Homo sapiens: one gene and its partners. The protein of the gene in region 1 purifies or fractionates together with the protein of each later gene. This does not show direct contact. Each region holds a gene or a part of one and is shown in the gene's direction. Other genes may lie near its edges. The genes, in order: HBM, DMBT1, LTF and SCGB2A1.

What was found.
Region 2: the proteins of HBM (region 1) and DMBT1 purify together in Homo sapiens (affinity purification with mass spectrometry; 2 studies listed by BioGRID and IntAct, with this or other methods). This does not show direct contact.
Region 3: the proteins of HBM (region 1) and LTF purify together in Homo sapiens (affinity purification with mass spectrometry; 2 studies listed by BioGRID and IntAct, with this or other methods). This does not show direct contact.
Region 4: the proteins of HBM (region 1) and SCGB2A1 purify together in Homo sapiens (affinity purification with mass spectrometry; 2 studies listed by BioGRID and IntAct, with this or other methods). This does not show direct contact.

The regions. Positions count from the first base shown.
Region 1 is NC_000016.10:161,071-167,270, forward strand, and holds HBM (hemoglobin subunit mu), read left to right. Parts: upstream 1-4,907; 5' UTR 4,908-4,927; coding exon 4,928-5,019; intron 5,020-5,197; coding exon 5,198-5,402; intron 5,403-5,509; coding exon 5,510-5,638; 3' UTR 5,639-5,694; downstream 5,695-6,200.
Region 2 is NC_000010.11:122,556,435-122,563,768, forward strand, and holds the start of DMBT1 (scavenger receptor cysteine-rich domain-containing protein DMBT1 isoform e precursor), read left to right. Parts: upstream 1-4,319; 5' UTR 4,320-4,336; coding exon 4,337-4,397; intron 4,398-7,334.
Region 3 is NC_000003.12:46,447,900-46,454,923, reverse strand, and holds part of LTF (lactotransferrin isoform 1 preproprotein), read left to right. Parts: intron 1-563; coding exon 564-619; intron 620-4,250; coding exon 4,251-4,429; intron 4,430-4,895; coding exon 4,896-5,070; intron 5,071-5,906; coding exon 5,907-6,061; intron 6,062-7,024. UniProt on the Homo sapiens protein: Transferrins are iron binding transport proteins which can bind two Fe(3+) ions in association with the binding of an anion, usually bicarbonate. Lactoferricin binds to the bacterial surface and is crucial for the bactericidal functions.
Region 4 is NC_000011.10:62,203,763-62,211,675, forward strand, and holds the start of SCGB2A1 (mammaglobin-B precursor), read left to right. Parts: upstream 1-4,910; 5' UTR 4,911-4,969; coding exon 4,970-5,024; intron 5,025-6,650; coding exon 6,651-6,838; intron 6,839-7,913. UniProt on the Homo sapiens protein: May bind androgens and other steroids, may also bind estramustine, a chemotherapeutic agent used for prostate cancer. May be under transcriptional regulation of steroid hormones.

The DNA.
Region 1 (6,200 bases):
CCAAGCCAGGCTGATTTACCGTTGCTAACATCCTATCGCACGCATCCCTCTGCCTCATGCACCCAACCCCAAGGCCTGGTACACTGCAGGCCCCAAGGTCCTGTGCGTCCTTTCAATACCCTCCTCACCTGCCTCACCTGCCCCCCCTACCCTGACTCTGGCTGGAGACCCCCTCCAGGGAGTTTTCAAAACAAAGGGTGTCAGTCTCCTGTGGGATTCCCTCACCTCTGCAGCCTGCGGTCTGAAAGCTGCCCCATGGTGTGTAGTGCTAAACTTCCAACTTACTCCAGGCCAGCGGTGACAGCCCGAGGGCAGGAAGGGCACCCACACTGAGCCTCAAACAGCTAATTTTGCAACTGTAAGTCCATATAATTGTCTTGAAAAGTAATTTGTTTCAAAAAGCTAAAAAACGAATACTCTTGAGTCTCCTTCTAGTAATTCCCCTTCTAGAGGTCTATCACCAGGAAAAGATCCAAAGCACTGATATTCTTCATGGAGTTGTTTATAATAGAAAAAAACTAGAGCTTGTTCACAAAGGGGAGCTCTGCAGGCTGAAGATGTTGCACCTGTCAGCGGGGATGGGGGCACGCTTGCTGACGCAGCAACGGAAAAGCATCAGTGTGTGAAGATGCATTTTCTCTCTTTCTATTATTATTATTTTTATTTTTATTTTTTCTGAGGCAGAACCTCGCTCTGTCACCCAGGCTGGAGTGCAGTGATGCGACCTCATCACAACCACGAGCCACCATGTGCGGCCCCATGAGCAAGCCACCACGCCCAGCCTTTTTTTCCCTTGTTTTAAAAAATCCTCTATTTAAAAAAGATGTGCATGGGCCGGGCACGGTGGTTCACGCTCATAATCCCAGCTCTTTCAGAGGCCGAGGCAGGCAGATCACCTGAGGTCAAGAGTTCGACACCAGCCTGGCCAACATGGTGAAATTCCATCTGTACTAAAAATACAAAAATTAGCCAGGCCGTGGTGGTGTGTGCCTGTAATCCCAGCTACTCAGGAGACTGAAGCAGGAGAATCACTTGAACCCAGGAGGCAGAGGTTGCAGTGGGTCAAAATCATGCCACCACACTCCAGTCTGGGAGACAGAGCAAGACTCCATCTCAGAAACAAACTAACAAACAAAATTTTTATATCTACCTATAATTCGTATAAATTTAAAATACATGCATAAAATCATACCCTTTGCAAGCACACGTACTAACTAAAAGGAATATATTCAGCACATAGAAATGGTTGTCTAACGGAGGAGGGGGGAGTTAATAAACAGAGAGGATAAAAAGAAATAAATCAGTAGAGCTGGAGGAGGGTCTCCTCCAGGCTGCGATGAGAACATAGTGAGCAGAATTGCAGGCCTGCATGACCTCACCTTCTGTGAGGAGTCCGGCCTCCCAAGACGCTTTCCTGCCTAGGTGCCCGGCTCAGAGTGTCCCCTACAAGGCTACTGGAGGAGAACCCCAGACCGAGCCTCATTCAGGTGAGGGGGCTGCACACCGGAGGTGGGAGAGGTCTGTCCCTTCCCACCCTGTGACACTGGGTCCCACTTTCTCTCTAGGGGGTCTCGGTTTCCTCATTTGCAAACTGGAGCTCATAAGGTGGGCCAGAGAAGTTTCAGTGAAGTGAGGAATGGATCGTCCCTCTGCCAGGGCCCATGTGCTCTAGGTCACCCTGTCATCACAGGGACAGGGAGGTCAAGGACAGTCACTCCTGAGGCCAGTCCGGGCTGGGCTGACCACGTGGACTCTCATGCCCAGATTGGGGCCCCAATCTCCCTGAAGCTGGGGCTCCAGCTGTGACTCAGGGGTGGGCAGAAGGGGAGACAGAAGCGATAGGTTCCTCAGCCCCCAGTCCCACCTGAGGGCCCCTTTGTCACTGGATCTGATAAGAAACACCACCCCTGCAGCCCCCTCCCCTCACCTGACCAATGGCCACAGCCTGGCTGGGCCCAGCTCCCTGTATATAAGGGGACCCTGGGGGCTGAGCACTACCAAGGCCAGTCCTGAGCAGGCCCAACTCCAGTGCAGCCGCCCACCCTGCCGCCATGTCTCTGACCAAGACTTAGGGGACCATCATTGTGTCCATGTGGGCCAAGATCTCCACGCAGGCCGACACCATCGGCACCGAGACTCTGGAGAGGTGAGTGTCAGATGGGACTGCCAGAGGGACTGGGTGGGAGGCCAGGTATGTGAGTGGGGACAGTGGGGAGCGGGCAGTGGGGAGGGGACCGTGGGGAGGGGACAGTGAGTAGGAGACAGTGGGGAGAGGACAGTGGAGAGGGGACAGTGAGGAGGGGACCATGGGAAGGGGACCGTGGAGTGGGGACAGTGAGGAGGGGACCATAGGGAGGGGACAGTGGGGAGGGGACAGTGAGGAGGGGACCGTGGGGAGGGGACAGTGAGGAGGGGACCGTGGGGAGGAGACAGTGAGGAGGGGACCGTAGGGAGGGGACAGTGAGGAGGGGACCGTGGGGAGGGGACAGTGAGGAGGGGACCGTGGGGAGGGGACAGTGAGGAGGGGACCGTGGGAAGGAGACAGTGAGGAGGGGACCTTGGGGAGGGGACAGTGAGGAGGGGACCATGGGGAGGGGACAGTGAGGAGGGGACAATGGAGAGGGGACAGTGAGGAGGGGACTGTGGGGAGAGGACAGTGAGGAGGGGACCATGGGGAGGGCACAGTGGGGAGGGGAGAGTGAGGAAGGGACAGTGAGGAGGGGACTGTGGGGAGGGGACAGTGGAGACAGATAGCCTTCCCTCTCAGTGAGGAGGGCAGGGTAAGGAGGGAACGATTAGGAGTTGCACAACCATCTGGGCTCGCTGAGACCTGGGCAGGCACAGGCCCAGGTTCTGACAAGCAGAGGGTGAAAGGTTTCGTTCTAGGCCTGAAGGGCCTTACAGGGCAGCCAGGGCACTACAGCCTCTAAAGTCCCAGCATCTGGGATCAGGGCACTGTCCCAGCTTCAAATTCCCAGCATCTGATCCCCTGGGAGGGGCCAGGGAGCTTTTCCTTCCCTGGAACGCTGCTGGGAGGTCATGAGCCTGCAGAAGGGGTGGCGGGCAACCCAGTCTGGGGCTGGGAGGGAGGTCCTGTGGCCAGAGGAGACGGTGGAGGGGCTGGGGGCACCAGGCGTGCTGGAGGCGGAGGGCGGGAGATTTGGGGACCAGGCTGCACAGAACCCGTCGGAAGCAGGGCGATCAGCCGGGAGCTGCAGAGGCCTGGGGGGCCTCTAGCCCAGGGCAGCCTGGGAGGGGCAGCTGCCTGGGCACCCGGGCCCCGCGAGGAGGGGCTGGGGCCTGCTGCGGGGTCGCAGATGTGTCCCGGTGCTCGGAGAGGGCCGCAGGGCGCGTGGGCCGTGGCGGGAGGCCGCGCTGCTGGGAGCTCACGGCCCCCGCCCCCCGTCCCAGGCTCTTCCTCAGCCACCCGCAGACCAAGACCTACTTCCCGCACTTCGACCTGCACCCGGGGTCCGCGCAGTTGCGCGCGCACGGCTCCAAGGTGGTGGCCGCCGTGGGCGACGCGGTGAAGAGCATCGACGACATCGGCGGCGCCCTGTCCAAGCTGAGCGAGCTGCACGCCTACATCCTGCGCGTGGACCCGGTCAACTTCAAGGTGCGCGGGGCGCGGTGCGGGCGGGGCGGGGCGGGGCCGCGGGGCGGGCGGGGCCGCGGGGCGGGGTCGCGGGGCGGGGCGGGGTGGGGTCGCGGGGCGGGGCGGGGTCGCGGGGCGGGGCGGGGCGGGGCGGGGCGGGCGGGGCGGCCGGGGCCCGGCGGGGCGGGGCGGGGCGGGGAGGGGCTGGGCGGGGCGGGGCGCGGGGCGGGGCGGGCCGGGCCGGGGCGGGGTCGCGGGGCGGGGTCGCGGGGCGGGGCGCGGGGCGGGGCGGGGCGGGGTGGGGTCGCGGGGCGGGGCCCGGGCTAGGCCCCGCCCCCGCACTGAGCCGCCCCCGCCCCCAGCTCCTGTCCCACTGCCTGCTGGTCACCCTGGCCGCGCGCTTCCCCGCCGACTTCACGGCCGAGGCCCACGCCGCCTGGGCCAAGTTCCTATCGGTCGTATCCTCTGTCCTGACCGAGAAGTACCGCTGAGCGCCGCCTCCGGGACCCCCAGGACAGGCTGCGGCCCCTCCCCTGCCCTTCACCCTCCCACAGTTCCTGCCCTGACTCCAATAAATGGATGAGGACGGAGCGATCTGGGCTCTGTGTTCTCAGTATTGGAGGGAAGGAGGGGAGAAGCTGAGTGATGGGTCCGGGGGCTTCGCAGGAACTCGGTCGTCCCCACTGTCGTCGCGGCCTGGGGTTCACTTGGGGGGCGCCTTGGGGAGGTTCTAGCCCCTGAGCACCGGAGCTGCGGCCCGGGTGGAGCGGAGCAGTCCCGGGCCGGCCCGCGGCGTCTCCTGGGGTCCTTGAGTCGGACGGGCGTTTGTGCGTCTCCCGGCTTCCCATATCGCACAAAGATTGTCACTTCACTAAGCGTATTGGAAGCGTGTCGGGGCTCAGGGAACTTTTCCACAAAGCCTGACGTCCGAATCCCGGGACTCTGGCAGCTACGGGGGTCCCTGAGGCCGGTCCCTCCCCGACTCCTAAGAGAGTAGGGGGTTTCCTGCCCGGTGTTCTCTCTCCGGTTCCTCCCATGTGCTCCCTCCTGGCAGAGCAGTAACTTTACCCGAGGGGAGTAAACAGATGCCCCTAAAGTCTGCAGTAAAGGTGCCCACGCGCAACGGCGTGGGTCAATGCCAGAAACCCTGGGATCCCGGAGGTCGAGGCCTCCACACAGACGGGAACCCGGGCTGGTTACGTTCCCCGGCGCAGGCCGAGGGTCCCCGCGTTCCCGCCGCGCTCGGGCCGATAAGGACGGGCGGGGTGCCCGGAGGCTCTATAAGGAGGCCAGGGCGGCGGGCGCGGCCCCCAGAGCACGTCAGGCGGCGCCATGCTCAGCGCCCAGGAGCGCGCCCAAATCGCGCAGGTCTGGGACCTGATTGCGGGCCACGAGGCGCAATTCGGGGCGGAGCTGCTGCTCAGGTCGGTAGAGGCGGGGTCTCCGGGAGCTCAGGGAGGTGGAGATGAGGGTTTTGGGCGCGTGGGCCGCCAACGCCATCCAAGGTCCTTCGGGTGCGGATCCCCGGGCTCTGGGCGGTGTGGGCGCTAGTGAAGCCCCACGCAGCCGCCCTCCTCCCCGGTCACTGACCTGGTCCTGCAGGCTCTTCACGGTGTACCCCAGCACCAAGGTCTACTTCCCGCACCTGAGCGCCTGCCAGGACGCGACGCAGCTGCTGAGCCACGGGCAGCGCATGCTGGCGGCTGTGGGCGCGGCGGTGCAGCACGTGGACAACCTGCGCGCCGCGCTGAGCCCGCTGGCGGACCTGCACGCGCTCGTGCTGCGCGTGGACCCAGCCAACTTTCCGGTGAGGCCTTTCCGGCCGGGGCAATGGTGCAGCGCGCAGCCGGGGTGGGGGGGCTCTGGGGGTCCCTAGCGGGGCAGACCCCGTCTCACCGGCCCCTTCTCCTGCAGCTGCTAATCCAGTGTTTCCACGTCGTGCTGGCCTCCCACCTGCAGGACGAGTTCACCGTGCAAATGCAAGCGGCGTGGGACAAGTTCCTGACTGGTGTGGCCGTGGTGCTGACCGAAAAATACCGCTGAGCCCTGTGCTGCGCAGGCCTTGGTCTGTGCCTGTCAATAAACAGAGGCCCGAACCATCTGCCCCTGCCTGTGTGGTCTTTGGGGAGCTAGCAAAGCGAGGTCACTATTGTTGGCCAGTGAAGCTCAGGGACCTAAAAGGAGCCTCCTAGAACTCTCAAATGCGCCCCACCCCCGGAGGTTTGTCCTCCCATGGCGAGGAGTGCGATGGGGCAGAGGGAGCACTGTGATGTGGCGGGGGTAGGGAGGGTGGCCTTCGACTTCAACCCTTGAATCGGGCTTCCAACCATACTGTTCGCAAAGCACTTCCCCATTCACGCATTTATTCATTCATTCTCCCTCCATCCCCACTTCCTGCTGGGACCTGTAGATGCTAATCCTGGCCCTTTTTGCAGAGAGATGCAGAAACTGAGGTCCCAGAGCCAAATGTGCAACCTAATTCGTTGGCCCAGAGCAGAGGGCTCCGCAGACCTGTTCCTTTCCCCTTCCTTCCCCCATGGACACTTCCTCAGTGGCAAACCTGCGCTAGCCTGGTTAGCCCTCCCTGTGACCCTGCAGCCCTGGG
Region 2 (7,334 bases), on another chromosome or scaffold:
GGAGGGGAAGGAGTGAGTCTCCAGACATTTGGGGAAAAAGTCTTCAGGCACAGGGAGCAGCAAGTGCAAAGGCCCTGGGGCTGGATGATGGTTACAGGGGGCAAGGGGGAGAGAGAGGCAGGGGTATCTTGTGCAGGGCCTTATAAACCATGGGAGGGCTTTGAGCCTTACTCTGAGCAAGATGGGAGGCATGCAATGGGATTTCTGTGTGTCAGGGGTCCCTAGAGGGCTGTGTTTGTTGCTGGAAGATTCCGCGGTTGGATGGCATCCTGATGAACGTGGAGCTCATCTGTCCTTCAGATGGGGGGCAGCAGCTGCCGTGAGTGCTGTCCTGGACATGGTCTCAGCTCTGTGTGTCATTTCCCTTCTCTGGACCTCATCGTCCCCAGCTGGAGGCTGAGTGGTGGAGGAGAACTGGCTCGTCACCAGCCCCCGTTTAACCACAAGACTTCTTTCTGGGGACCCCTGGACAGCATGGGTGAGCCACTCACAATCCCCACCTTCAAAGCCATTGCCTGCTGAGCACCTGCTCTGCTGGGGCACTGGGATCACAGAGGGGCAGCAGGAGACAACGGGTCTCAGCTTGATCCTCAAAGCCCAGCAAGGAGGTGTGGGGCAGTGGGGGGTGGGGGGAGTGAGTGAAGGAGGGTAGGAAGGGGTCCCCTTATAACCCGATTGGGAAGACCGGCTCTCTGAGCAACAAAAATGAGCGACATTATAAATATCAGACATACAATGTCAAAAGATTGTTACAACGGTAACGATGACCAGCAATTATGGTGTGCTACTCAATGAGGGTAAAATTAGAGTTTGGGGTCAGACTGACACCTGAAGGGGAGCCCTGGTCACACAGATTACAGGATTCAGGGACTGGAAGGCAAACAGCAGCAGCCGGAAAGTGCTACAGCCCCGACCCTTCCCACCAGGCTCCCCGTCCTTCTGTCCCCCTCGTCTGTCTGTCAGGTCACAGGGCTCCTGGTTCAGAAATCAGAGACCCCTCAGAGGTGGGAGGTGGGAGGGGCCCTGGGCTGCCTCCCTGATCTCCGTCTTCCTCTGGCTTCCCAGGGCACTGGTCTGTGGGTAGAAAGAATCTTTAGAAGAAGGAGAACAACGGGCTGTTTTGGGAAGTCTGCCTGGGACCCCAGCTCAGCTTCGTGGCAGGGATGTGTGCCTGGCAGCCCCAGGGGCCCTGCTGGGCCTCTCAGTGCCCTGTCTTATGAAGGGAGGTCTTGGCTTCCCACAGGTAATCCTCAGCTCTGACGGCAGGTGGCCCTAGGGGAGGGGCCTGGAAGGGGACTCCCTCACCACACTCGGGAGCATTCCACTGGCCTGTTTTATGTTTTGGGGCTTCCCCATGAATTCCAATTTAGGAAAGGATTCTGTAGCTTTAAAAAAAAAAGCCATACATGGCCGGGCGCGGTGACTCATGCCTGTAATCTCAGAACTTTGAGAGGCCGAGGCAGGCAGATCGCAAGGTCAAGAGATCGACACCATCCTGGCCAACATGGTGAAACCCTGTCTCTACTAAAAATACAAAAGTTAGCTGGGTGTGGTGATGCACGCCTGTAGTTCCAGCTACTCGGGAGGCTGAGGCAGGAGAATCGCTTGAACTTGGGAGGCGGAGGTTGTAGTGAGCCGAGATTGCACCACTGCACTCCAGCCTGGGCGACAGAACAAGACTCCGTCTTAAAATAAATAAGTAAATAAATAAATAAATGGCCACATATGATCCAGGGGGCTCTTCCCCATAATGACCAGTCCTCTGGTGCTGGGATTTAGGGGCTTGGTCCCACCTCCTGGAGTGTGCTGTGGGGGTGCCGCTGGCTTAATTGCCTGGGGAAGGTGCTTTGCAAATGGGGCCCGGGCGCCGAGTCTCTGAGCTTTAATGGGCTTATCTTGCTTCCTGTTGTTCTTCATGGCAGTTCTGGGGTGAATAAAATGGAACTTTGTGGTTGTGGTCTTCCAACCCCTGCTGTTTAAGCAGATGCTTCTAACCAGTAGGAAGGGGAAGATGAGGGTCCTCTGGCAGGGGCTGCTGCTGGAGGAGGTTGTCCCCCTGAACCCTTCTCTTAGTCCAAGGAAAGACCTCCCTAAATGGTGTCTTATGAGCCACAAAATGGCCTTGGGACAAGATGAGGCACCTGACGGTGAAGGCTGAGGTCCCACACGGTGTTGGCAGGTGGCCCTCAAGCCCATTGTCTTCTGCCCGCATGCCCAGGACCGCCACATCCTTCCTGTTCCACTGACGTCACCCATTTCCCACCTGGGATGCCTACCTGGGCTGGCTTTGAAATGACAGCTAGGCTTCACCACTTCCTTCTTCCTGGTGTCTCCTGAACAAAAAGCTCACAAACCTTATTTTCTCAGGATCTTTTCTGCTAACCACCATGGGCAAAAGATGCAGTCAAAACAACAAAAACGGGGAGGTTACGCAGTTCAGAAAATCCCACACATTCTCAAGAAGGGTGTCCCCGCCAAGCTGAGAGATACCTGGGACATCATGCTTTCCTGGAGGGGAAGGCTCCCTGCCCCCATTCCTGTACAGCCGGGAGAGTCGCTCCTGTTCGTCATCCCATCTTCTCGCTCTCATTTGCTGGGCTGACCTCTGCTGGTATTTCAAGACTGTTTGGTGCCACCCTCTCTGAGAGATGGCCTCCCTCATCTGATTTAGATGCTTTTCTTTACCTTCTCATAGCAGCTTGTACTAATACTTGCTACCCCCTGTTGAAATTGTCACCAGGCAGGTCTGTCTCTAAGACCAGACAGTCTGCTTTTGTCTTGGAAGGACACTTATTACCCCTTCCTGTTCACAGGTATTTAGTATTCTTACCATCATCTTTCCCTGCTGTGCTCCCGGCAGACAATTCTAATCTGTCATGACACTCTGATGATCCCAGACCCAGCTGCATTATCATTCTCAGTCCAACACTCCAGGAACCAAGGGATCACAATCCACTTCTAAGAGGAATCCAGCATGTGCCTGGTCTTGGGCATTCCCTGGTAGGTGAGTAAACCTGTTCTCTCGTCACCCAGTGCTTATCAGTTGCTGATCTGGCAGTAGGAGGATGAAACACAGTGAGCCTATTCTGTGTTCCTGTTCTACTCAAGGGGTGAAGAGGCACCTGGAAACAACAGGAAGAGTTGTAGGATTAAAAAGGACATCCAAGATTAAATGTAACTTTCATCTGGATGAAGCCAAAGGCAGACTTCCAGCCCTAAATTCTGACTGGTGGCTGACACAGGACATGGGTTCATGGTACCCTTCTAGAATGCAGCATAGACTACTGATGAACAGTGCATGGCAAAGAAGCCAAGTGTCATTTCATGGCCTCAGCCTCTCAGCTGAGAAGCAGGGCACAGCTCACCCAGGCTAGGAAAACAGAGGCAAGTCCTGGAAAGCTGTCTGCTTTTAACCAAGAGTTACTGGCCATCAAGTGTCTTGGTTAAAAAATAAGTGTCAGGCAACCTTCTTGGTAGAGTGTGTTGGGGGGCATTATCAGAGTCTGGTAATGACTTCTGAGGGTCCCAAAGAGTGAAGTGATATTTACATAGCAAATCCAAGGAGGGGGATTGTGTGCAATATAGGTGGAGGTGGGGGCAGGTTTTGTGGGTTTGCCAAGCTCCAAGGGTCATACAATGTGCATGTCAAGGACAAGAAATCAAAGCCATGTGAAATGGTTGGAGGTGGTTCAGTTTGAGGTCATGTGTTTCTCAGCTCCTGTTGTGGAATTAGTGTGAGACCCAGAAGACTGTGGCCAAAGCTATTATGGACCCATGGTCTCCGTGGAATCATCCCTCATGACTTCTGCTCTCTGATCACATCCACACTCATGTCATCCTCGTTCTTCCAAGGTGAGGTTACTAGTACTGCACAGGGGCTGATGAGAGCATGTCCTGCCAGGAAAAACCATCCCAGAGATGCTTTCCCCCTTGGCACTGTGTCCTGTATTTGCTCAGCAGCCCACATCCTGTTCTTCCCCAAACCTTGGGGCAGACTTCCCACAGGTGAATTTGAACTCCCCAAGATTAAAATCAAGCCCGTATTCAGGAAACACTTGGGAGTCCTTGAGGTTCACCGAGAGGGAAGTTGGAAATTTTTCACTTATGTCAGTGCGTTTGCAGTTGGGCAACAGCCAGATTGTTCATATGGCAATCAATCAAACACACCTAAGTTTTTTCCACATATTAGCCATCGACTGTTAGCAAAAGCCCTCACTTCCTTTATATTGATTTATAGCAGCAGTAGAAATATACCACCCTAGAGGACACACCTCCTTTTAGCTAGGTACCTATAAATGTCCAGGATTTTCTATTCAATTGAGAAGAACCCAGCAAAATGGGGATCTCCACAGTCATCCTTGAAATGTGTCTTTTATGGGGACAAGTTCTATCTACAGGTATTACGTTTAATTATTATATTCATTAATTTCTCTCCTGCAGACCCAATCATGGCAAATTATATCTACTACTTTCCATTACAAGGGAAGTTTTATATCAAAGAGTGGGTAGCACTTTGCTGATAATTGTAATTGTTTGCAGGTATTCAGGAGGAATGGCTCTTTTTTGTTTTATTTCTGGCTGAGAAATATAAATGGTTGTAGTTAGAAAAAGCCAGTCATTAAGTCAATGTTTTCAGTAAGTCATTCAACTAAAGGAATGATTGATTTGTCTTAGAAAAATCCCTGAAGTTTAGGAAAGGTGGATGTGTATTATTAAGAGGCCCTTAAACTTTGCAACAATTGGTTAAACACACAATTTGTGTGCTATGAAAACGGGCAGAAAGGATTCCCACTGCAAATGCCCTTTATGTGGCTTCTTTCTACAGGTGTGTCTGGCTTGATGGCTAATATTTGCCGAGCAAAATCAGGTCAAGTAATTGAGCGCAGACAAGATCATTAAGATTCCAAGTTTGTCTTGGAATTCCAAGTTTCTCTGTCATGCACAGCTTTAAACAAACACTTGAAGCCCAGTCACTCAAGCATAGCTGTATGTTCTTAGAGAGTCAGATGATAAACGTGAGAGAGCCGTCGGTAGCGCACTCTGATTGCTGCATCTCAATGGCATTTTGCAGAGATACTAGAGGAACAAGTGATTCTCAGTTTGCCTATTTTGTCTCTCTCTTCCTGTCTCTCTGCCTCTCTCTCTCTCTCTTTCTCTCTTATCTATTGTGTAGTTATTATCATCTTTTCTCTCCCCTCTCTCTCCCTCTGTTTCTGTCTGTCTGTCTGTGTTTCTCTCTCTCTCTGTATCTTTCTCTTTTTCCCATCTTTTGGGCAGATATCACCTTTTCTTCCTCCTCCTCCCTCTGTTTCTGCCTCTGCCTTTCTCTCCCTGCCCCCCTCACTGTATCTTCCTGTCTTTCTCATCTATCAGGCAGTTATTACCTTTCCTCCCTCCCTCCTCCTCCTTCTCTGTTTCTCTCTCCATCTCTCTTTCTCTTTATTGGGCAGCTATTATCACCTTTCTCTCTGTCTCTGTCTCTCTTTCTCTTCAACTATTGGGCAACTATTATCACCTTTCCTCTCTCTCTCTATCTGTTTCTCTTCATCTGTCAGGCAGCTATTATCACCTTCCCTCCCCCTCTCTTTTTCTCTCTCACTCTTTCTCATCATCTATTGGGCAGCTCTTATCACTTTTCCTCCCTATTTCTCTCTCTCTCTCTCCCTTTGTTTCTATCTTCTTTCTACCTTCCTTCCATCCCTTTTTCTTTCTCTCCCTCTCTTTATTCATTTCTTTCTTCCTTCTTCTCTTTTATCTTTCCTACTGCCTTTTTTTTCTTTTATGTCATCTTTTGCTAGATTTATGAATTTCAGGATACAGGGTAAAAATCACCTAATTTTCAGGTAACTTCTGGAACTGTCACTCTCCCCCTAGGCTCAGTGGGGGAAGCTTTGAAGATTAAGGTTCATCTGGTTGGTTGCTTTCATGAAAGCAGCACCCCCAAACCCAGCCCTCCCACCCAGGTGGTAGGGAGCAGGCCCACCCCCTGTGATGAGTGTGTGGAGGGACTGGGGGCCACCAGGCCCAGGACCTCAGGGGAGTGGAGACTGGGCATCCTCATCCTGCCTCCATCAGAAGCATCTGAAACTGGGAGGCTGCGTCCTCAGCCCCAGCTCTTGTCAGTACCGAGTTCACCCTCCAGATTGTCTCTGAACCATGACATGGAATTCACATCAGCCACTGTAGACAGGGAGTGAATTGCCTCGTCTTTATCTACAAAGAAACAACAGGCAGCAGTGCTCTTGGATTGAGGACATTTGTAGTTTGCCCATGATGTTATGTGCATGCATATGGACAGACATGCACACATGTGCATGCATGCCTGTGTTTGCCATTCAGAGGTGGGAATTCATGCTCTCTGAAGTGGACCTGTATTCTCTTATTTAAATCTTCTAACATTGCTGAAGTTAGGAACAATTATTTCCACATTTCAGATGGGGAAACTGAGGCTCAGAAAGGTTATTGGCTTGTCCAAAGACAGCACTGGTGAGTGGCTGGGTTAGGGCTTGAATCTGGATCAAATTCACTAGCATTCAGATGACAGCTCTGGCCCACTGGCCCTTGCTGCTCCTTGCAGGGAACTGAGGTGATGAACTGAACTGTGGCATCTAACTCAGTGCTTGGAGCCTGACCACAGAGCTTTGCGCTGGAAGTACCGAGGTGGCAGGCACCTGTCAGCTCTGGTCTTCATGCAAACTCTTGAGAAAAACTCAGTATGCCCAGGTTTGTGCTGGGCAGGAAAGGCTGTGGTACCCACTGCTAGCCCCAGCAATGCCCCTCCTCTGCCACTTGCCTGCTGTGGATCCTCTGTGACCCTCAGTTTACTCATTTATAAATGGAGGTTATGTTCCAACCCATGCAGTATCTGGCACATAGACAGAGCCTCAGAACCATTTAGTGTTACTACTCTAGACATTTTCCTCATGTTTTATCCAAAAGCAGCTTCCTAAAAGTAATGTGAGCTCTTGGATTGGATCCTGCAACAGAAAATGAAAAACTGGTGAAATCCAGATAAAGCCTGGAGTAAACTTAGTAGGAAGGTACCAGTGTTTGTTAGCATGAGAATCACTTGAACTCAGGAGGCAGAGGTTGCCGTGAGCCGAGATTGTGCCACTGCACTCCAGCCTGGGTGACAGAGTGAGACTCTGTCTCAAAAAAAAAAATTAATAAATCATTTTCCAGAAGTGATTCTTCTCCCTTCAGGCAATTTACCACCATTCCCACAATGGCAGCTGGAGTAACCTACAGCTATGTGGTTGATTCTTGGAAGACTACAGATTGGTCTCAGTATGTGCAGAAGGGTCTATTCAAAATGTGTGGACACAGCAGAACCA
Region 3 (7,024 bases), on another chromosome or scaffold:
TCCTGGCTCCTGGTTGGGCAGGACCGCTGCAGTGTCCAGGCTGATGTCCTTCTGCCCACCTGGGCCTCTCCCCGTGGCTGAAGGACAGTGAGCAATGCCTGATTCGCCCCCATCCTCTCTGCCCCCACGCGGAGGCTGAGCTCCCCCTTTTCCCATTCTGTCTGCTGGCACTAGCGTATTTTTGCAGAGGGAGGCCTCCACACTTCCCCACTGGCCAGGGCACACCTGCACACTCAGTCCTGAGGAAAACAGCCACATGAACAGTGATGCTAAGGCTTTACCCTCTTGGGTAGAGGCTTCAAAACTCTCCTTTATATAGAAAAAAGTTTTGTCCTCTTAGCCCTCAAAGCAGAAGATGGGGGCCTCTGGCTAGCACCTGAGTCATTCTTCAGTATCTACCTGGAGGGGGCCCCTACCTTCCCAGCTGGGATGCCCCAAAGCTTCAGAGCCCTGCCCTGCAGGGAGTAGAAACCCATAGATGCTGAGTGCCAGGGCTACTGTTCCACAGGGAGGGGCTGGGGAGGGCTGCCTGTGCTTACCCCTGATGGTTTCTCTTTTCACAGGTGTCTGAGAGACGGGGCTGGAGACGTGGCTTTTATCAGAGAGAGCACAGTGTTTGGTAAGAGCAGGGTAATGAGCCGTGGGTACTGACCCCTTTTATCTTACTTGATCATGACTCTGACCTTTGAGCTAATTAGATTCCTAAGTTCATGGCAGACCATTTTCAAGATTCCTACAGGGCACAGCTCTGATTTTATGATCTTTCATATTTTAAATGATCAGTTTTCTTCAAACCTCCTGTGCCTACTGCCTTTCTCTTCCCCTCATAGACACCCATGCCTAGGTGCTTGGCAATGCGTCCTCCAGTCCTCCAAGACACATGTGCTCATGCAGAACAGATTGTGCTGGTTTGTGTTTCCGGTTTCTGGGTTCATAGAGGTTTTAGTGAGCATTAGAAATCCTGCTACTTGGGTTTTCTGCTCAGCATTTTGTTTTAGAGGTTTATCGGTATTGTTGTATACATGTCTAGCTCAGGGGTCCTAACAGTTGAGGAGTGTTCCGTGGAATACATCCACCTTTTACTTCTCTGTCACCATAGTGATGGACAGAGGTTGTGCTCTCTTTTCCTCTACCACATGCAGCCACACGACTGATACCTTCACCTGTGTTCCTTACTTACGTGCTGGACAGCGTCCCTCCTGGACTTATAATAAAGCAGTTGATGAGTATGTAGAGGCTAAACACACTGCACCCAGGACTAGTGGACATAAGCTCACTACATTTCATGCAAGACCAATAGAGACAGGGCTACTATATTCCACCCAGGGCCACTAGAGAAAGTGACAGACACCCACATTCACTCAGGACCATCAGAGACACACCCCACATCCACCCAGGACCACCAGAGAAAGAGACAACACCCACATTCACCTAGGACCATCAGAGACAGACCCCGCATTCATCAGAGGCCACCAGAAACAGACCTCCACATGCACCCAGGGCCACCAGAGACAGACCCCACATGCACCCAGGATCACCAAGCTGCTGTCTGGAATGACACTCTGCAAGTGTTCTAATTTCCCCACAACTTCAGTTAGAAGTATTTTTGACTTTCATACTTTTTGTCCGAATGATGGTTGTAATGCAATAGATAGTTCGTTTTATTTTTAATTTTCATTTCTCTGACAGCTGGTGAGTTTGATCATTTCAACATATTTGCTAGCCGTTTGGGCTTCCCTTTCTTATTTTGTGACATTTGACTACTTTTTAAATTGAGTTTCACACCTTGTTTCTGCATGATTTTGATTCAAGGACAGAAGTTCCTTCTATCTAGGTATCAAACTATTGCTGATTTTAAACTTTAGTAAAACCTCTTCTCAGTCAAAAATCTGACAACGGTAGTCTCTGTTGATCAAAAATCCTTGATATTGATAAGGTCAAATCCACAAGCCTCACCTTGTTGGTTTGTAGTTTTGAGATATTTCAAAGATGCCCTTCTTCACACCCAAATCATAATTATTTCCTAAAATAAGATTTGAAGATCCCCTTCCTCATCTATTTATATGTGCTCTACCTAGAAAGTCAGATATAGATTTGGCTTTAGCATTTTATCCCCTTTACAGTGAGGCAATTTACCTTACAATAAAAAAAGTATATTTTTTCTGCCATATGTGAAGCCAATTCTACACCAAGTTTGTATATATCCAAGTGGACCAGTTTCTGAGCTATTTTATTTCATTGGTGTATTTGCATTTTTTCTGCTTTTGTTACTGTGGCTTACCAATGGGTCTTACTATCTGGTGGAGAGAAAGAGAGAGAGCCAGTGAGAGGAAGAGAGAGAGAATGAGAGAGAGCTCCCTCTCCCCTCTCACTTTATTATTCCTTTTCAAATATACTCAGCTAAAACTTCAGAATTATTTTGTTGAATTTCTGGAAAAAATCATACTTTAATTTTGATTCGAATTGTACTGAATTTAAATTGTTCCATGAAAAATCAGCATATTTATAACATTAAGTTGTCCAGTCCATGGTGATGCTAAATCTCCCCCATTTGATCACACCTCTTTTTAGTTTCTTTGATAGAACTAAAATTTTTCCTTTGTGGGTCTGATGTGTCTTTGTGGGAGGCTAATTATTAGCTACTTAATGGTTTTAGTTGCTATTGTAACATCTTATAGTCCATATTGGTTTCTATTTGGTTATTGTTAATGAGGATAACATCTGATTTTTGTAGGTTGCTCTTATAACTTGTTACTCCTCTGAGTAGTTTTATTAGTTTCTGTTGGTTTCATTGGTTTTTTGTAGATGACGATATCATCTTTTTAAATAAGAGTGTGTCTTTTTCCTTCCAGTGTTTATATCTCACATTTCTTTTGTAAATTGTGTGATCTGGATATCTAGAATTGTGCTGGCATTGTAACAGTGGGCATCCTTGCCTTGTTCCTGATTTTGCGGTGAATGTCTACATTTTCTTCTTTTAGTAAGGTTTTTGCTGTAGATTAATGGCATTTATCAAGCCAATAACTTATGGCCAGGCGTGGTGTCTCACCCCTGTAATCCCAGCACTTTGGGAGACTGAGGCGGGTGGATCACATGAGGTCAGGAGTTCGAGACCAGCCTGGCCAACATGGTGAAACCCCATCTCTATTAAAAATACAAAAATTAGCTGGGCCTGGTGGCGTGCGCTTGTGGTCCCAGCTACTTGGGAGGCTGAGGCAAGAGAATCTCTTGACTCCAGGAGATGGAGGATGCAGTGAGCTGAGATCGCACCACTGCATTCCAGGCTGGGCAACAGAGTGAGACTCCGTCTCAAAACAAACAAAAAAACTTTACCGATTCTATCTATTACTATTTTTCTGAGGCTGAAAAAAAAACCACACACAAATAGATGTTGAACACATAAACAATCGTTCTGCATCTATTAAGATGAAGACGATCTCATGGTTTTCTGCCATTAAATGCAGATTACTTTAGTTTTTTTGATGTTCAGCCATTCTTTTGTTAATGGAATACACTGGTAAACCTTCATTCCAATCTATTAGCTTTTTAAATACTCTGTGAGATTGAGTTAGTTAGTACGTTATTTACAAATTTTGCATTTATGTTCGTAAGTAAAATAAACTTTTAATTCTTCCCTCCTATACTTTTTCTGATTTTGACATCAAGGTTGTACTAATCTCATAAAATGACTCGGGCAAGATTTTTTTCACTTTACACATTCTGAAGCAACTTATATATGATATTCCACATTTGCCTGAACTCATTCATAAAACCATTCTTCCCCTTCTTTTGATATACTCAGTGTTGGAAAGTGTCTCACCTTCCTGCCTTATTCCCTGCCTTGTTAACATTTTTGTCATTTTTATTCTTCCCAGAGATGTGAGTAAGGGAGCAACCCTTGGTGGCCCCCTGAGCTTGTCTCTGCAAAGTGACTTTTCCAGGCAGAGATGCCGCAGAAACAGACGGGTCTGGTTTGGCCTCTCTGGCCTGCCAGGCAGCAGCTGCACGGGAACCCCAGGGTGGCCTAAGTGATTTAGGATGAGGATCACACCTCGGCTGCCCCCTGAGGCTTTTGGGGCACTACCTTTACCTTTCTGAGTGTTCTGGAGCAAACCCCTGCCTTTCTGACCCTCAGTTTTGTCAGCTATCTCCCCAAGCTCAAAATTCTATAGGGAGAAGGGGAACTATAGCTCGAGGTTACTGCTGGAGTCGGCTTATCTAGACTCCCTCCCACCTCACCTTCCCTGCAGAGGACCTGTCAGACGAGGCTGAAAGGGACGAGTATGAGTTACTCTGCCCAGACAACACTCGGAAGCCAGTGGACAAGTTCAAAGACTGCCATCTGGCCCGGGTCCCTTCTCATGCCGTTGTGGCACGAAGTGTGAATGGCAAGGAGGATGCCATCTGGAATCTTCTCCGCCAGGCACAGGTATCTTCACCCACGGTCCTCCCCACTTGCTTGGATATGGGGGGCAGGGAGCAAGGTTTCTTACTTCCCTGACTTCTGCCACTCCAGAAGTCCTGTAGCTTTGCTGCAGGATAGCACACTAATGCATTGGGCTGCTTGCCCAGGCTGTACTGTGGACAGCAGAAGCAATGAAACTCTTCTGTCACACGGGCTGACAGCGTCTTATGATGGGAGCAGAAGCAGGGGGTGGTCGATGCAATCTTCTCAGGGCCCTAAGGTGCTTGGACCTCAGCAACTCTTCAAAGAATGAGCCATAGCTGAGCTTGGGTCTCCGAGATGGCACAAGTCCCTCTGCAGGAGGGTCTCAACCGAGGCTCCTGCTCTCAGTTAGAATGATCCCAAAGCTCCAGATACTCTTTTTTAACATCATTTTTTTGTTTCCTCCCTATTTACCATTGACACCATAATTCTATTTTTTCTTAATTAGGAAAAGTTTGGAAAGGACAAGTCACCGAAATTCCAGCTCTTTGGCTCCCCTAGTGGGCAGAAAGATCTGCTGTTCAAGGACTCTGCCATTGGGTTTTCGAGGGTGCCCCCGAGGATAGATTCTGGGCTGTACCTTGGCTCCGGCTACTTCACTGCCATCCAGAACTTGAGGAAAAGTGAGTGAGCCCAGGAGGGTCCTGAGGTCCGCCTGGTGTGGTCTTCTACTTCCCAGCAGGTGGCCCTACTTTGTGGCGGTCACTCCTTTTCCCAGACACTGTGGGGTCATCGTGGAGGTTTGATGCAGGTGTGAGTGTCTTCTGTGGATTAGGTCAGGTGTCTCTAAAAGAATAGTCTGGCCACCTGATCAGTGCACGTCAGGCTCCCCAGGCCTGGCAGAAAAATCAGTTTGCCTCCTATTAAGTGAGAAACATGAACATGAACAAAGATAGCCAGGACCCCTCCTGGATGAATCCGGGGGCCTGGATTTACCCACACTTCCCAGGCCCAGACCTTGAACTTAGTTGGGGACACCATGGTGGGGGAACTCAGCTATGGCTCCTTCTCTACTGGGGGGCTGGGGGTGGGAGTCTGGGGGAACCCAGAGGCTGCACCGTAGTTATTGGTGGTGATTGCAGGCGTTAGGGGAAGTCAGGGTTGGGCTCAAGGTCCCCTAGGCCATCTCTTGGGACTGTCACTGGTCTCTGGGTCATGGAGCGTTTATCCTCAGAGACAGAGACAATAGGCGCCTCCTGACTCTAAAGATTAATGGATAGATTAGAAGCCAGGGAACTTCTCCAAAGGAACAGAAGTGGGAAACACAGGGAGCTCTGTGGACCTGAAGAAGGGGCTTGGAGCTGAGAAGTGGAGGAGGAGAGGGTATGGGTCCACATGTCCACACATGTACTGTAGCTCCTGTTCCAGGGAGAGTCTGGGCAGGACCCTGGCTCTGGGGAGGTTGGACAACCTGGCAAAGCTCAGGTTGCCCAGCCACCTGCGGTCTTCCCTCTGGCAGGTGAGGAGGAAGTGGCTGCCCGGCGTGCGCGGGTCGTGTGGTGTGCGGTGGGCGAGCAGGAGCTGCGCAAGTGTAACCAGTGGAGTGGCTTGAGCGAAGGCAGCGTGACCTGCTCCTCGGCCTCCACCACAGAGGACTGCATCGCCCTGGTGCTGGTAGGGAGCTCCATCACAGGGGCGGGCGGTGGGCCCGGTGGAAGACCTAGGGCCTGGGCATCTGCTTAAAGTGAAGTCAACAGTCAAAGAGGCCACGGGGGCCTGGGTGAGGCAGGGATGCCTGGAGAGGTGTGCTCAGGGCCAGAAAGCATTTTAGTTTCAAAAAGCAGTTTACTGTGGGTTTCCCACTCCTCTGGTTATAAGAACAACTCAGGATTATTATAAGGAATTTGGAAAATATGGAAAGGTATTATGTTAAAACAAAACAACAACAAACCCCCCAAACCACCTGTGATCTCACACAGAGGGACAGACATGGTTAAAGTCTGGCTAATTCTCCATTCCAGTATTTCTCTGCACATCTGCAGATATGCATGCAACAATAATGAAGTGTTGCAGTATGTCGTTTTTAAGCCCTTTTCACTAAACAGCGTATAATGGGCATTCTTCCACATGAATATTTACTCTTGGAAAGCATTAATTTTTTTTTTTTTAAGAGACAGATTCTTGATCTGTCACCCAGGCTGGAGTGCAGTGGTGCGACCACATCTCACTGCAGCCTGGAACTCTTGGGCTCAAGTGATCCTCCCATCTCAGCTTCCCAAGTAGCTGGGGCTACAGGCATACGCCACCACACCTGCATAATTATTATTATTATTATTGTAGCGACAGGGTCTCGCTTTGTTGCCCAGGCTCGTCTCGAACTCCTGGGCTCAAGCAATCTTCCTGCTTCGGCCTCCCAAAGTGCTGGGATTACGGGTGTGAGCCACAGCACTCGGACGAAAACATTTTTTAAACATGCTTCCAGGATATCTTTTATGTGAATATGGCTCAGTTTAGTCATGCCCCCATTCCTCTTTGTCCCTTACTTTGCTATTATCAATAACCCTGTGGTGAGCATTCTTGAGTAGAAATCTTTGTCCACTTCTCTATTTTTAATATAGTTGTAAAAATATTACTGGG
Region 4 (7,913 bases), on another chromosome or scaffold:
CAATGAGATCTTAAATGTTCTTATCACAAAAAAAACAAGTGTGTGAGATGATGGTGTGTTAATTAGCTTGAATTAATCATTTCAGAATGCATATATACATCAAAACATATAAACCATAAATAAATATAATTTTTATTTGTCAATTTACCTTAGTAAAGCTGGGTAAAAAATTAAAAAATGTATGTAAACATGTTCAATAAATTGGAACTGGTTTCTGGGAAGATTAATATGGTAATACTAAGTAGAAGATGCTTGGGTGATAAGTTATTTGTAAATTATTTCAATAAAACTCTGAGGCTAGTCGTGGTAGTTCATGCCTATAATCCCAGCACTTTGGGAGGCCAAGGTGGGCGGATCACTTGACCCCAGGAGTTCGAGACCAGCCTGAGCAACATGGCGAAACTCTGTCTCTACCAAAAATACAAAAATATAGCTGGGCGTGGTGGTGTGCGCCTGTAATCTCGGCTACTGGAAAGGCTGAGGCAGGAGGATCGCTTGAACTCAGGAGGCAGAGGGTGCAGTGAGCCAAGATGGCACCACTGCACTCCAGCTGGGGCGACAGAGCAAGACCCTGTTCCAAAAAAAAAAAAAAATCATAAAACCAAAAAACCTCTGAGGAAAGGGGAACGCTGAAAAAAAATCAAATACACATGGATCAAAACACAGAACTTTGTTTTCAAACTTAAAAGTTTTAGCTTATATCTGAATAGTTACTCAAATATTTTAGAGAATATTATGTGGAAGCCGAGTTTCAGTAGTGTCGAACAGTCCTAGTGGTCCTTGGAGTTTACCATAAATACATTTTTTTATTATTCAAAAATAATGGCTACCAGCTGACATCTGGATAGCACCTGCTTTGTGCCAAGCACTGTTCTCAGGACTTTCCACTTTTTACTTGTGAATCACAGCAATTCTATGACTGTTCCCATTTTAAAGGGAACACACAGCATTAAGTCTCCTGTCCAATGTGGCAGTCAGCAAACGGAGGAGCTGTGATGTGAACACAAGTGGTGGTCAGGCTCCGAGTCCTCACTCACCACCCACCTGCCATCCAACCCTTACGAGAAAGGGCTGCAGAACCTGCAGAGATGGGACCCAGCAGTGCAACACAGCGGCGCTCAGCAGAGCTGCAGCTTCTCAGGCCCTCCCTTCCCAGATCCTTCCTGGGAGTCTTGGGAATGTCCAGCTGGGATGGGACTGCCCCATGGAATAAGGGATTTTATCCTTTCCTTACTTTTCAATCATCTGACTCCTCTGGGAGTCACCTCCGGCATCTTCTGAATTTATCCATCTTTAACCTACCTCTCCCTACCCACAGCCTCCCCTCAACCTCTGAGCCAGAGGACGTTTCTCCCACTTAAGGGAAAGCACCCTTTCCCTCCTTTGGCCTTCCAGAGCCCTTCATCCATCTCTCTCTGCACCTCTCCTTTCCCGTCCGGGCTTATAGTCTCCTGTGTGTGTCTCCCCAGGCCTCTCAGAGGTACAGAGGGTCACAGGTCTCTTCTGACAATTGAGTGAGTATGAAAAACGCACCACCGTCACGTGCATCTTGGGTGTGTGTGTAAGGGGAAGGGGGTTCTTCCTTGGTTGCTGTAGACTCCCCATGGAAGCTACAGCCTCTCCTTTCCTCAGCCCCATTTCAGAAAGGAGAGGCCAGAAAGCGTTTCTGATGCTTGTGGTCTCTTTAGAGGATTCACCCTGTTCCCTTCACTCAATCCCAACCCCGTGTCACCAGATGTATTCACCCCTACGCAGGGGGAGGTCAGTCTTTGCAAGCTTCTGACACATTTTGGGACACTGAGCTGGAATATGGGGGTGCTGGGGTGGATTGAACACTGAGCAACTCAGACTTGGAATCCCAGCATGAGGCTCGGGCGCGAGGGAGGCGCTGGGTCTAGACGAGGCCTTGGTGACTTGAACAACAGGCATATTGCTGCCAACAAAGATGGCTCCAAGACCAGAGGCCTTTCCTGAAGTTCTGTTCTGTGTAAGAAGGTGACTGACAAGGCAGGGCCACAAGGACTGGGGCACCAGGCAGAGCCCCAATAAGTACTGGCCAAGGAGACACTCTCACATTTCATAATCAAGGTCCTTCACTACCCTTGGGAAACAAGGCCACCAGCCAGGGTCAGCTGTGTACAGTGGTAAGTAAACAACACTTCTCCTTTCTGTCCTCCCCAAAATTAGGTTTGTTCTTGGCCACTGAGGCTCCACCTGAATGGTGGAAAGAAACATGTCGCAAGTAATCCAGAGAGAAAACAATGCATTCACAGGGAATTAACAATGGATTCATTCCTCTGGCTGTTTCATCGACTTCTTTTTTTTTCTTTTTTCTTTTTTTACCTGAGCCAACTTTGTTTTTCTTGTTCCTATGACCTTCACTGTGCCCCTAATTAAACAGGGATGGGCTTTCTATCATGTGAGGCTGTCCCGTCCTTTTCCTGATTCTATGTGGCCACGTTCCTTCCCTTCCTTACCTTGCCAGTGCCATCTGTCCTCAAGCTTCTGTACTTGCAGTTCCCTCTCCCTGGAATTCTCTTCCCCAGATGTGTCCTTGGACATCACCATCCACTCATCCAAGTCTCAGCTGAAACAGCACCTGCTCCTACAGGCTGCCTTGGGGGGCTTACAGGCCACTGCCCCTGGGCAGGCCATCTATGACAGCATTCAGCTGTTGTGAATATTTTGTTGTTCTTTGCAGCAATGACCACTTTCTCATACCTCTGATATATCTTTAGTCTTGTTCTTTGTGTCCTTCATTAGAAAATAAGGTCCACAGGAGCAAGCACCTGGTCTAACCTGTTTCTATAACTGAATCTAGTGCAAGGCCCAGCTCACAGGAGAAGCAAAACAGTGATGCGTACAACAAGGGATCCACGCATGAATGCAACTGCCATTTATTCAGAATTATCTCATGCTTGGCTGCGTGATTAAAAATTTACAGAGCGTCGGCCGGGAGCGGTGGCTCAAACCTATAATCCCAGCACTTTGGGAGGCCAAGGTGGGTGGATCACGAGGTCAGGAGTTTGAGACCAGCCTGGCCAACATGGTGAAACCCCCATCTCTACTAAAAATACAAAATAAATAAATAAATAAATAAATAAATAAATAAATAAATAAATAAAAATTAGCTGGGCGTGGTGGTGCACACCTGTAATCCCAGCTACTCAGGAGACTGAGGCAGGATAATCGCTTGAACCCGGGAAGGCTGAGGTTGCAGTGAGTTGAGATCACGCCACTGCACTCCAGCCTGGGCAATAAGAGTGAGACTCCATCTCAAAAAAAAAAATTTACAGAGTATCTCTCATCTTTACAAAAATTCACGGCCAGGCGGGCACGGTGGCTCACACCTGTAATCTCAGCACTTTGGGAGGCCGAGGTGGGTGGATCACCTGAGGTCAGGAGTTCGAGACCAGCCTGGCCAACATGGAGAAACTCCGTCTCTACTAAAAATACGAAAATTAGCCGGGCCTCGTGCCACATGCCTGTAATCCCAGCTACTCAGAAGGTTGAGGCAGGAGAATCGCTTGAACTCGGGAGGCGGAGGTTGCAGTGAGCCAAGATCGTGCCACTGAACTCCAGCCTGGGCAACAGGGCAAGACTCTGTCTCGAAAAAAAAAAAAATTCAGCATCACTTATACCCGTTTCACAAAGACAGAAAGGAAGCCCAGAGGGACCAGCATTGTAATTTGCCCAAAGACACAGCATGAGTACGTGTGGCCTCCAGGATCCACACCCACACCTGCCCAAATCTTATCACCTAAATCTCATCATCACCCAACCCCATTGCCACCCACTGCCTAGCACTGCCTGCCCAAGCAGTCAGTTACTCCACTCACTCACAGCATCCTCTCAGTCAGTGGATAGAAAACCGTAAAAGGCTAACAAAGAACTAAGCACAAATTAAATTATAAATATATTGTAAAATAAATTTGTAAAGTTGAATTAACTTAGTGTTGTAATTCTTAACAAGAATAACAAGAAGCTTTCAGTAGAGGTTAGATATTAATGTTTTCCCCAAAACTTAAAGCACTTTTCGGGGCTGGGCATGGTGGCTCACGCCTGTAATCCCAGCACTTTGGGAGGCTGAGTGAGGTGGATCTCCTGAGGTCAGAAGTTCGAGACCAGCCTGGCCAAAATGGTGAAACCCTGTCTCTACTAAAAATACAAAAATTAGCCAGGTGTCCTGGCGCATGCCTGTAATCCCAGCTACCCAGGAGGCTGAGGCAGGAGAATTTCTGGAACCCGGGAGGCGGAGGCTGCAGTGAGCCAAGATCGCACCACTGCACTCCAGCCTGGGCAATAGAGTGAGACTCTGTCTCAAAACAACAACAACAACAGCAACAAAACCCCAAAAAACAAAAACAAAAAAACCCGCTTTTCTGAAAAAGAAATGTCTATGGATTAGGAAGGTCTGCCTCCCATAGGAAGATGCAGGTATTGCACATAGCCCAAATATTTGATGATTCCAGGACCGGCAGATACACAAGTTATGAAACTGTTTGTACCTTGAAGAATAACGAGAAGAGGAGGAGACCAAGAGGAATAGAAGAAAAAGAATAGAAGGAGGAGGAGGAAGAAGGGAAGGAGGACTAGAAGAAAACTACAATAATAACAACATTGTTGAGACCACAAGATCACGCCACTGGGTTTTGCTTTATATTTTGGAAAACACTGTCACATCCATTTTACTAAAAGCCATGTATCATTATTGTAGTCCCCAGATTGTCAGGGATCCAAATATTACTGCCTTCTTGGTTTCTACAAACAGAGCACAGGCTGGCTGTGTTCCCATTGGTGTACACTATTGTGTCCTGGTCCCATGCCAGGTTGACACATTGCCTCATTCCTGGGAGGGACTAAGGTGCCTCCCTGGGGAATAAATAGAGCAGGGCTGGGTACTCACCTCCACAGCAACTTCCTTGATCCCTGCCACGCACGACTGAACACAGACAGCAGCCGCCTCGCCATGAAGCTGCTGATGGTCCTCATGCTGGCGGCCCTCCTCCTGCACTGCTATGCAGGTGAGTTCTGGGCAGAGAGGGCTGCTTCTGGGCTAGGAATTGTCACCTGGGCCCCTGTAGAAGAACTCCCAACCTCTAATCCCCAGCACAGACGAGCCCCAGTGTGAAGGGCCTGGGTGCGATAGGCCTTAGGATCCCCATGAGTTCCTGACAATCAAGCATGCAGTGTCCTCATGGGCTGTCCCCTGCATTGGAGCTGCACACAGTGTATCATGGCACTCAGCGTCTCACCATGGTCACGGTGACCATAGAAACCAGGATGAGTCTCAGGATTAAATATTGAAATGAACTATTTCAGTGGGGCAAGGGAGAGATGGCATCTACACCTAGAAATCAGGAAATAATCATGGGTCTCCTTGAATATGGAACGAAATAGGAAACCTCCCAGGACAGAAGGCCCAGGCTGCAGAGTGTGACCCAGTGTCTCTCACCCTGTGTGGCTCACTCTGTGTTCTCAGAGTTGATCTGGGTCCTTCTGGGATGCCCTTACCCTCCCAGTTGCTTCAGGCTCAAGGCAGACAGGTGAGAACTCACAACCCCTGGAGTCTCCTTCCAGCACTAAAGATTCAGTGGGAGGAAAAAGCCCCGGCTGCTGGAATCAGCGCTAATATTTCCATAGGTAGCCTGCCTTGTGCAGTTCACAAAGGTGGATTCCAAACCCTACCGTATTGGCATCCAAGGTAGGTGCAGATGTGTAGAAGGGTGACAAGCTCACAGTCAACTAACTGGAAAATCACAAAGTCCAGAGCACAACCAGCTCACATGAAGCCACGTCCTGAGCTCGTTCCTCTCCCTTACAGTGGGAGGTGACCTCAGATCCCCTCATGAACAAGCTCTATTTCACATTCATGTGTGTGTGTGTGTGTGTGTGTGTGTGTGTGTGTGTGTGTGTTTGAGACAGGGTCTTGCTCTGTCACCCAGGCTGGGACTGGGACTGGTGTGCAATGGCACAGTCTCAGCTCACTGCAACCTCTTCCTCGAAGGCTCAAGTAATGCTCCTGCCTCAGCCTCCCGAGTAGCTGGGACTACAGGTGGACACCACTATGCCTGGCTAATTTTTAAATTTTTTGTAGAGATGAGGTCTCCCTGTGTTGTCCAGGCTGGTCTTAAACTCCTGAGCTCAAGCAATTCGCCTGCCTTGGCCTCCCTAAGTGCTGGGATTACAGGCGTGAGCCACCATACCTGGCCACACATTCCCTTTTATTGCAGTAGAGTCAACAGAACTAATGGACAATGTCCTAGACCCATTCATCTGAAATCCTTGGAAACCCTACCTGATGCTGGGCATGATAACAGGGAAGCATTGCATGACTTTGAACCAAGAAAGTCCAAGTAGTGTTTGCTATGTCCCCCCAGTCAGAACACCTCATTTCTCGAGGGTCCTCTTCACCAAGAATACACAGGGTTGGGCTTCTCTGGGTTTGGAAGGTCAGAGAGAATTTGCAGAGCCTGAGTTTACACTCCCAGAATTGAGAACTCTGCATACTGCACCAAAATCTTTCTGAACCTCGGTCTGTCCCTGGAGGTACGAAGATAGCCAGCTTCCCAATTCATCTGTAGAATGAATCACACCTCTAGTAATGGCCCATGTTCTTGTGTCTTTTTTTTTTTTTTTTTTTTTTCCAGATTCTGGCTGCAAACTCCTGGAGGACATGGTTGAAAAGACCATCAATTCCGACATATCTATACCTGAATACAAAGAGCTTCTTCAAGAGTTCATAGACAGTGATGCCGCTGCAGAGGCTATGGGGAAATTCAAGCAGTGTTTCCTCAACCAGTCACATAGAACTCTGAAAAACTTTGGACTGATGATGGTAATTTGGGTTTCTTCTTATGTACCCTTTGAAAATCACTGATCAGAACCAGCGGGCTCTAAATTTGGCACCAAGAATGCCAAGCAACTGGTGAACAAACTTTCTTTATATATCAATTCATTAAACTTTGTCTCCAGGCTGCTTTGCCACTTCACATTGAGAATCTTTAGGGAGTGATAAATGGAAAAGGCAAAAAGGAGAAAAGAAAGCCTTAGAGATCACCCGTCTACCTCTGACCTCACCAGTCCCTTCTCACACAGACACAGACACACATAAGCACACAAGTATAGACACACACAGACACACGGGGACAGGCATCGGCATTTTTTTTTTTTTTTTTGAGACGGAGTTTCGCTCTGTCACTCAGGCTGGAGTGTAGTGGCGTGAATCTCGGCTCACTGCAACCTCCACCTCCCGGGTTCAAGAGATTTGCCTGCCTCCACCTCCCGAGTAGTTGGGATTACAGGTGTGCGCCACCACGCCGGGCTAATTTTTGTATTTTAACTAGAGAAGGAGTTTCACCATGTTGGCCAGGCTGGTCTCAAACTCCTAACCTCAAGTGATCTGCCTCCCTTGGCCTCCCAGAGTTCTGAGATTACAGGTCTGAGCCCCCGCACCCAGCCAGAACATGCACATTTTTATCAAGAGAAAATATCTGGTTCTCAAGAGATCACACACTTGTAGGAGCAATCTACTAAGAAATTTCCTACTTTCACAAAAACAAATATTCAAAACATTCTTATTTTTTTTTATCTAGCTCAGAAAATACAATTTGTGCAAATTCTGCATTTTCTAAAATAAAGAAAAAAATTTTTTTGAGATGGAGTTTCACTCTGTTGCCCAGGCTGGAGTGCAGTGGCATGATCTTCGTTCACTGCAACCTCTGCCTCCTGGGATCAAGCAATTCTTGTGCCTCAGACTCTCAGGTAGCTGGGACTACAGGCATGTACCACCATGCCCAGCTAATTTTTGTATTTTTAGTAGAGATGAGATTTTACCATGTTGGCCAGGCTGGTCTTGAACTCCTGACCTCAGGTGATCTGCCCGCCTCGGCCTCCCAAAGTGCTGGGATTAC